2 separate regions of the Homo sapiens genome follow, and region 1 is linked to region 2. A link means that fine-mapping ties the variant in region 2 to the expression of a gene that starts in the linked region. Tissue or cell type: whole blood. Region 2 holds a variant in brackets; the other region holds the start of a gene. All regions are shown on one strand. Distances are from middle to middle.

Region 1 (5,034 bases), 140 kb after region 2:
ATGTGCTCCCAGACCTCCTAGGGTCCACAGGACTCATACTGCCTCAAGGCCTCCCCTCATTCTGCCCTTGACCCTTCAGACAGGAGCTGCTAACTTTCTAACTGAATCACCAGAAGCCCCAGTAGTTACAAGGCCCAGAACACCACATCAGTTCTCAGACTTTATACTTGTAAGAATCACCTGGCATGCTTTACAAAGACAAAGAATTCCAGGTCCCAAGCCCAGAAAGTCAGTTTCGTAGCTCAGAGCTGGGGCCTGGGGATACATACCGAGAGGCAGTCAGCTCTGATGTAGGTGGTTCAGAGGTCACACCTTAAAAACCCTGGTCTCTCCTATACATTCTTCCTCCTGAGAATTATCAGAATGCAGCCTCCCAAGTCTGAAAGAAAGGTAAAACCATTCTAGTCCAAGCGAGTTTCCTAAGACATTCTTACTAAGTCACAAGTACATACTCCAAGAAGCTGCCTGGCTTTTGTGGGAACACAAGTGTCAGTGAATTTAGGCTGTGGCCTAAATATGCAAATTTTGGAGCCTAACCTCCAAAATTCGAAAGATGCAGTGTTCTCTCGAAGTTTGGAAGCCTAGTTCTGGGGTGGTAATTACATGATGGCTGGAGGAGCAACTGGTGATGGAAATCCTTAGGAGACACTAAAAATAACTCACATTTTAATCGACCAATCTGGAACTTCTCTCACCCCTTCATGCCAATCGTGCAATTACCATAACTCCATTCACCATGTTCCTCAGCAGTTAGTATGCACCATTCTCAGTCCTACAAGATAGTAACTATTATCCCTGATTCACAGGTCCAGGTACAACGGCAGGTAGCACAAGATGGGGAGGGGACTGAACCACACTGCACTCACACCCCACCCTACAATTAAAAACCGTCCTTCAGCGCGTGGCTGCCGAGCACCTCAAACTGAAACAAGTGTTCTTTACCACCTTTCTCTGGAGTGACAGAGAGAAAGAAAATCCCAGTAAGCCCTTCTGGCCCTGCCCACCACCTCCCCTGTTCCCACCCAGGCCAAAGGGGGAATGCGTGGGCCCTGCTCCCACCCCCGATGCTGACATCAAAGGAGCAGAGACACGCAGGAGACTCCAGGCAGCACCCGAGGCCCTGGCCGCCAGCACGTCATAATCCCTGCAGTCGCTGCCTTTCAGACTTAAAAAGAACAATGAGGAAAGACACCCACGCTTCCCCTCACTGGGCTAGGAAGGAGAGCTTTGCGGGTTTAGACTGCAGTCTCCCCCGCCCATAGCCACCTGTGTGCCGGCTCCGCAGACGAGGTCCCCCCAGCACCCTGGCAGGGACTGTACCATCAACAGACAAATGGCAGCCGACCAAGGAGGCGACTGGCGTGTGGAACAGGTGATCCGATTGTTTTTCTAAAGAGCAAGGGCTAGGACGTCCTACGTGTTCATATGCACAATTTTTTGAACTCCATCAAGAACACGAACCCCATGCCCACATCTTCACTGCTCAATTCACATTGTCTGATATGCACCTTCCAGGGAGAAAGAGGTTTTCATGGAGAAAGAGGCAACGTTGACTATACGTGTTTACTCAAAGCTTTTTTATACCGGACTATATGCCATCCAGGTTTAAGAGAATTCCAGGCAGGCTCTAGCATTATGTTTTTCACAGAAAAAGCCGGTGCAGTAGCCCGGATGCCCAGATCCACTCATTTCCCAAACCGGTTCCCACACCCGCTGCCCACCACCTGGCGAGGAAGGAGCGGGCGAGGTTCGCTCGAATCGTCGTCACGGGTTTCCGTGGGTACAGTTATTACTCGTTACATAATATTAAACAATTAAGATTAAAAATGGTTACATAATACTGTCCTATGGCTGGCGGCAACGAAGCTCGGGATCTCGGACTGCAGCGAGCCCGCGGCAGGCGGGCAGGGGGCCGCGCGGCAAGACCTCCCCGCCTCCCTCCCGGGCCCTGTCCGCCGCGGCCGGGGCCTCTGCAGCCTGCGCAGGCCGATCCGCCCGCCGCCCCGGCTCGCGCCCACCGCCCACCGCCCACCGCCCAGCGCCCGCGGCGGAGCCCACCTGAGTACCTGGAGAGCGGGCGGCAGCACTGGCCGCACGGGGTCGCTGCGTGTGCGCCGCCGGCCCGGGTAGGGCTTCGGGGCCCGGCCCCCGCAGTGCCCGGCGCGTGGACAGCGCTCCGCATGGACAGCGCTCGGAGCCGGGCCGGGCTGGTCCTCCACGGCTCCGCCCCGGCCAGGGGCCTGCGGCGCAGAAAACCGACCCGGGGCCTCGGGGCCACCGCGCGCCAGGCGAACGCGCTAGCACGAAAAGCGGGCCAACGCCGCCTCTGGGGACGCCATCCGGGCGAGGGTGGGATGCCGCGCCACCGCCCGAGCGTGCCCGGGGGCTCCCAGCGCCATCACCACGCAGGTGCCCGGGGGCCCCTCCGCGGAGCCGGCTGCCGCCCGGCTGCAATACTCAGCCTCCGAGGGACTGGGCGCTCCTGAGGAGCGGGAGGACGACGGAGCAGCGCCCGGTCCTGGAGCACAACAGGAATCCCAGGACCAAACCCATGTGACGCGGCCACGCCCCAACGCCCGGCGGGGGCCCTCTGCTGCCCAATCCCCGGATCCCTGGTTCTCATGGCAACCCTGAAGAACCCCTTGTTCCCTCCACTGCCTCCTCTCCTCCCCCACAGCCCCCCCGCCTGATGGGCAAGGACGCGCACACTGGCCACTCTGACGATGCCGAAAGCCCTCCATGTCTACCCGCTACGCCGCATTCGCAGACAGGCGGGGGACATCGCGGCCGCGGCAAGCTAGAGATGCCGCCTGCTCGAGCAACCTTCCACCTGCAGGGCCGGCCAGTTCTACTCTTCCAGGATCACTCTCGTCTCACCCTTCTCCCCAAAATGTCAGAGCAAGAACCAGGAAGGGAGAGGCTCTTTCTGGAAGCCACAGGCATAACGTTACTGAACAACGAGGACAAAGTAGGGTCCCATTTAAACTGAGAGTCAGCGAGGGAAAGAACAGATCCTATACATACCAAGCATCTGCTATGTGCTAGTCACTTCACACACACACACACCCCACACACACCTCACACACACACCACACACATCCCACCCACCCACTCACATACATACACACCACACACATACATACACACCACACACACACATACACCACACACACACATCACACATACTCCCCCACCCCCGCACACACATACACCACAGACATACACACGAGCCTGCAATGATGGAAGCAAAACAGAACGTTTGGAGATATTCACTGCCGTTTACAAGGCCACAGTAAGCAGTAAGCAGATTTTCTACTCCCCTCTAGCAGAGAACATGGTAGGAAAAGCTAGACATTGTAGACAGCAGTAAGAACCTAACAGTCAACAGTGGACAATGGATTCTGAAACTGAGATCCTATACTGCATTCACACACGTTAAGGGGCAGGGCGCTGGGAAAACCCCATCTCAGTCTGGGGTTCAAAGAGTGGAAAAGCTACCCTAGTCCAACTGCTCGGAGGCCAGGTCAGGCCCCTGAAGGTCACTGGAGGAGGAGGCTGGAAAAAGTGCAGATATGCACTCCAAAAGGAGAGGTTCCACGGTGGTCATGACCACAAAATTCCAATATGTTTAAGTCGATCAAACAAAAGCAGAGTTAAGGCTGGTTCTGAAAGCAGCCAAGAGCAGTTTTCAACACAACACAAAGGGTAACACAAGGCTTTCTTTTCTCACAGTCCGGGCTGACCACATATGGCCTGGCTACTGCAAGAAACATTGAAGGTGTTAGCGCTTTTGACTCTAACTGCGCACCCCTCAGAGAAGATGTCACATAGTGAACATCGCAAGGCACAGAATGGGAAATGGAAGCACAGAATCAAACCCTGAGATTCGGGGAGAAACCAAAGTGTGGAGAAATTATGTAACTTATCCAAAGTCCAGAGCAGGTTACTGACTGGGAGAACTTGGCTTTCCTTCCAGACTCCAGATATGAGACTTTTCTGCGGTCTGACACAGTGGCTTCTTCCACCTCTGCAGTCAACCCCACAAAGGTGGCTCGAGTGTTCCTCTGCCTCCCTGCCCAGCAGCTCCCAGCCTGGATGGTGAACTCCTTTGCCTGAACATCCCACGCACCCTGCCATCTCCTGGGCTAGAACAACAGGTTGTGCAGGACAGAGGGCTTCCCTGCCACACTCCCCTCTATTACAAAATGCCAGAGGTCCCAGTTCGAAGCAGCTGTTCCTGGATGTGGGAAGAGCAAGAGAGAAATGATCTAATGATGGACAAGGAATCTTGAAAAGCCAGACCTTCACTGAATGGCTGACAGGACACACATTTTGCTTTACTAGAACAAGAACAGAATCTTTGAAAAGGCATAAAAGCCAGTGGTCAAGAAGTAACTGACAGCAAAGGCAAAAGAGATGAAGGCTAAGCTGGAAAGTGGAGATGAAGCCTGATGATATACTCAGTGGAAGCCCAGAAAGTCTCAGGAATGAGAACTACCATTCACCTCTGGAAATGGGAAACGTAGAGTCCAAAACAAGAAGATTAATCGGAAGTGTCAGGAATAGCTGGGCCCCATTTCATCCCGGGTCCTCTCCCCAGCTCCATCAGCTAGGTGACTTCTTTTCTGGAAGCAGGGACACAGGTCTCTGGACCAGGATCAGCAGACACAGCCATGCCTTTAGTCCCAGAAAGATTTGGTGGATCACATGCTAGCTGCCATATGAATCCCACCACCATCCCCAGCAGCTCCTGGAGCAGCACCTCCAACAGAACTGAAAGAGGCTCCTGCAGAGCTGAGAAGAGACCCAAAAGCATGAGCCCCACAACAAGCAACCAGGCGTCCATCCACAGAGGCCACAGTTAAATGCTCACTCACACAGGGCTCCTGTCAGCTTCTGAGCAATGTCCTTTTGAAAGTGGGAAGACCCCAGACAGCTAAGCGAAGCCTCTAAGGTGAAAGATGTGGCCAAATTGCATGGGACAAACACTTCCTATGCCTCACCTCCCTGGGCCCTGTCCACAGCTCTATTGAG
Region 2 (5,040 bases):
ATTAACAATTGGGGAATCAGGGTAAAGAATATATGAGAGTTCTTTGCTCTATTACTGCAACTTCTCTATACATTTGAAATTTTTTCAAAATAAAAGTTTAAAGAAACATACGTGCGTGAAAATAATGACCTGCGGCTCTCCTCTCTTCACTCAGCATCTCAGTAGTATCTTTTCCCATAGTAACGATCACCCCAGAACATGAGGTTACATAGTGGAAAGCATGGGGGCCCTTGTTTCAGGGCTATCTTCACCAGGAGCATCTCTGTTTCTTTTCCATTCAGCAGTTGTCTTCACTATCCCGGATATTTATGTCCAAAACACTCAGCCAGTGTGGCTCAATCACAGACTAGGAGCTCAATGGGTTCAACAAAATATCCCAGGTGTCCAGGTGGGGTTCCTTGAGTCCAGGCCCTGGAACTGGGTCCCTATAGGTGTGTGTTCACCTGCCCAGTGAGGTCCCACAAGCTGACCATCACAGGGTCCCCTAGTCCATGCCCGAGCTCTTTATTTGGTGGCTATGTGATGGCCGAGCTCAGGGACACAGATAGGGAAGGGACGTAGCACCCGCTTCCACTGCCTTCTTCCTCCCTCTTGTATTGGAAGCCCAAAAGCAGCCCCCCAGCAACCTGAAACGCATGCAGTATCATCAGTCTACTTTTATGGTAATGTACTGTCTTTATCAGGACAACTTCTCCTTCATGTCTTATTTCAAACCCTGTCACTGACTGATGGGCATTCCGTTTCAGAAAAACTCTCACCTGAGACCATCAGTAAGCAGGACAGGTCTAACTGTGATTTCCTGAGTAGGGAACCTCAGGTAAGCTCTGTAAGGCCTGCTGTGAAAGCGGTACCCTGGATCACAGCACCGAACTAGCAAGAGCGGGACATCAGCCTCTACACAGCCCACTGGGCCACCACCCACTGGCCAGTGGAGCAGGGCTGTCCTGTCTGCTAAGGCCCCATGACCAAGAAGGTGTGGGCAGATGCTAGACAGACAGAACAATGACAGACAGGTGGAAGGGGCTGGGTATGGGATGGGCGGACCAGTTGGTGAAGGAAGACTGGCAGATTCACAAACGGTGAAGTCTGAGAAGCTGAGAGACACAGCAGGCACAGGATGGCTAAAACACTGCAAAAGGGCTATAATCCCCAGTACCATCTCCAGTCTGGACGACGCAGAAAATGACAGCCATGAGAAAAATTTCATAAATGGAGCTATCATTTAGGGCTATAATTTTATTCAATTACAACATGCCAGAAAATGTATTTGAAGATAAAATTTTCACCCTCAAAATCCCGATTTATCTCCAAAATATATTTGCTATGAATACAGTTGACGCTAATAATCTTTATACTGCCCATAATTCATTTTTTAAAAAGCAAGCTTACATACCATCAAAATGAGATTATATAATCACAAAAATACTGATAACTGGAAAGGCAAAACAGAAACTATGGAGATTTCTTTGAAAAAGCAGAACACACTCACTGGCAGCCCTTGGACTCCCAGCCTGCTACTTTTTCAGTACTAAAAACCACACAACCCATGCAAAAATCACCAGTGACCCACAGCAGCTTTCAGCCATCTGGGGAGTATGTCTGCTGGGCTGGCAGGGAAGAAACATGAGCCAAAAACACTGCCATTTGGGCACTAACTCCTTTAAAACCAAGCAAACAAAAAGGATCTGCTGAGCACCAGCTCAGAAGGTCTAACACCAAGAAGAATAAGTACCTGAAACTGACTGTGCACATCTTACCCCCATCCTCCAATCGCCCGGAGTTCTCAGACTCCAAGAGGTCTCCAGGCAGATCTGAAAGCAAACGCCGTCGTATCAGACCTCTTGGGGTCTGTCCATTTGCTCCCAGACAGGCTCAGTAAACATCGTCTAGAGTTTCTTGAAACTACAGAAACAGCCAATCAAAGTGATAGATTGCCTGGACACAGTCCCCTCACCACCCAGGGAACTGTCACCAGAGCCCCAGTGGTGCGAGGCCCTAGGCAGTGAGAAGAATTGGTCCAAAGCCACATTGCGAGGAACTGCAGAGTCCTAGCCAGTGGCCAGCCCCCAAGTCATATGCCTTCCCATCGTATTATAAGTGACATACAGCCCTTGGCATTATTTATAAAAATGAACTTTCTACACCCACCCACATACTTATAAATACATAAAACTTCTGCTCCAGCAATGACACTGCTGGAAACCAACCTATCCATCTGTCTATCCATCCACAACCCCATTCATGACCAAGGACCCATGCACGAGAATGTTCATTTCAGCTCTATTCATAATTAGAAAAAGCTGCAAACAAAAGTAAGCTTATGTGCCATTAAATGGTATATAAACATCTCAGTAGC[G/A]TCTTTTCCCCTAGCAACGTTCACCCTAGAACGTGAGGTTACACAATGGAAAGCACGGGGGCCCTTGTTTCCGGGAGCTGTTCATCAAAAGAGGGTTGAGGTAAATCTATCACGGTACCTCCATACAACACAACACTATGAAGCTGCAGGGGAAATCACAACAATGCACATCAATTTTGTGAAGAGATACACAAGATACTGTCCGCAGTGTCACCTCTGGAGAATGAGACTAGAGTTGGAAACTGAGAAGAAAGTGAATCTCACCGTTTACCAAATACCTTTTTGTAGTATTTGTTTCACTTTTTGTTTTTTACTATGAATGTTACTTTTATAAATAAAATAGGTTCTCCTTTTTTTGGTCTCCTGGTTGGACATAGAGGTGATATGGTAATAAGTCATGGCAAACTTACTCCTGACTCTGAATCCTGTTTGTAGTGCTAGATTCCGCAAATTGTCACGCCCTGACTGAATGAACCAGCTTCTTTGGAAAGAGATGAGTGGGGGTAGAGTGGGAAAAAGTTTTCACGTGAACTTCTCTGGGGAAAATGCTAGCTTCTAATGCATTCATGTTCCTGGAGGCCTTTTTCTCCAGAAAAGGAAGTAGCTCTTGGACCAATTGGTGTAATGATTCAACAACCAATCCTCCATCTCATCTACTGAGACTTAACCAGCCCTGCTGCTACGGGCACCAATCCCACCTGGTAAGGCCGGTGGGGCCAGATAGGAACCCTGGTGCAGAGCCAGGCTCAAGGCTCCTCCACTCATCCCAGCCACAAAGTCGGCAACCCCAAGCATCCATAAAAGTATCACTAACTAAAAAGAGGCAGAAAGTGTGGAGCATAAGATGAAATGTGCCTATTAATGGAAGAAAGCTCATTTAGGCATGAAGAGTCCAATTCTCTCTTCGGACAGAAATCACAACAGTCTCAGCAAAACAACAAAACAAACTCACTTAGAATCTATCAGTGTCTAAATAGAGACCTTGGTTATATAGATGTGGCATCTAACCTCAGCATTTTATAACTTAAAAAGCAGATCAAAATAGTTAGTGCTCCAGAATTACAAGAGGGATTTCCACCAGTAACATCTTTTTTTGAAAAAAGTTTCTTTGGTGGTAATCAAACTTTAATGAAACATTAAACCTAAAATGTAACCTATAATTTGAAAAAATGTTTTCAGATTTGAGTCAGATTGGCCGAACCTTTTCAAGCCATCTCAGGCCCAGCTACATGGGGAGGGTGCGGATGTGCCCTCACTGTCAGTCACTGAGCAGATGCTCCCTGAGAACCTTCTCCGTGCCAGGCACCAAGGTGCTGGGATTCGGGTCTGGAATAAAACCCCTTGACTTTATGGAACTTCATTCAAGTAGGGGAGATAGACAAAAAGCAAAATTCAGAGATTGTTAGATGGCAGAAGGCAAAGGAAAAACATTCAGCAAAGGGCTGCTGGCTAAGAAGGTCCTCAAAGGCAGCAAAAGATGCCACAGGCCGACTGTGATGCTCCCTCCCAGGCGGCAGAAACTGGGGACCAGCTGAGTCAGGAGGCTCCCATGACGACACAGGCAAGGAAAGTAAAGCCCAGGCCTGGGTCCCACAGCAGAGACCAGGCAGGCGCTGTCCAATTCTGGTACACAGGCTGGGGTGGCGTGAAACTCAAAAGAGGAGTGAGGAAGGGAATTGGGAATTCTGATGGGGGTACTGGTCTGCTGCTCTGAGATGGGAATTTGGAGGTATCATGTTTGGAGGGAAGGATCAGATGCTGACTTTGGACCTGTTGCGTTGGCAGTGTCTTTTAAGCACCCACATGGAGGTGCCATGTTGGCAGCTGGAAACAGGAGTCTGGGCCTTGAGGAAGAGTTTGGATGGGAATGTAAACCGGGGAGTAATCAACATAGGGACAAGATGGAAAGCTGAGGGAATGGCCACGGCTGTCCAGGGAGGGAGCGCAGAGAGGGGAGACGGAGCACCAAGGCCCAGTGACTGAAGAGCCAGCAACGATGGCTGAGAAGGAAAGTCCAGCAAAGAGGGTGGAAACCCAGACGGAGCTGTGGAAAGGAGAGCAGCGAGCGACAGGAGCCCTCATGCTGCTGCAGGCCCGGCAAGCGGAAGACAGAGAACCCCGCTGGCTTTAGCCATGTGGATGCCACCCTGATGGGAACAAGTGGAATTGAATAGCACAGTGGGGACAAAAGCTGGGCTGCTGGAACGTTTTTAAAAAGGTTTAAAAAGGAGCATTAGGAAACCAAGGAAAATGATAATCTTCTGAAAGCAGTAATTTTAACCACTGCCTTAATCTGTGAGGGAAAGGAAGGCAGAGCCTCGACCCAAGGCGGTAAGGAAGACCCATCCTCAGTTTTGCCTTTGGGAATCCTTATCCCAAGTCCTCTGCCAGCCCAAGGATGGCAGAGCATAGGTCCCCCTCCCATAGAACGCCTGGGGACTTTCCAGTTGACCACATCCCTCCTACAGCTACTCCCTCTGGGCTTCCAGAGTTTCCCTTCTTCAGGGCAGTGTGCTGTGAGCCCAGAACACTACTTCTGGAGGTCATCAAGGTCACTGAGACATAACAATGGACTTATTGTTTGAAGTAGTCCCAGGTCCTTTTCTTTGAAGCTTTTGAGAGCAATCTTCTCAGCTCTCCCGCTCCACTAGGAGAGGACAAAGTAAATATTCTGGGTGGGACTC

Evidence for each region. PIP is the estimated chance that this variant, and not a neighbour inherited with it, causes the effect.
Region 1: it holds the start of GRB10, and the variant in region 2 is fine-mapped to the expression of GRB10 in whole blood (TOPMed, PIP above 0.99).

The regions. Positions count from the first base shown.
Region 1 is chr7:50,780,358-50,785,391 of GRCh38, forward strand. GRB10 (growth factor receptor bound protein 10) reads right to left here and starts at 2,539. Exons shown (of 19, transcript NM_001350814.2): 1 at 2,067-2,539; 2 at 270-379.
Region 2 is chr7:50,643,842-50,648,881 of GRCh38, forward strand. The region is part of intron 7 of GRB10 (growth factor receptor bound protein 10); the gene reads right to left. LOC124901632 (a long non-coding RNA gene) reads left to right here. Exons shown (of 2, transcript XR_007060323.1): 2 at 1-108. Among named protein-coding and RNA genes, the nearest start is that of DDC, 81 kb to the left of the region's middle. The variant G/A (reference allele first, on the strand shown) is at 2,357.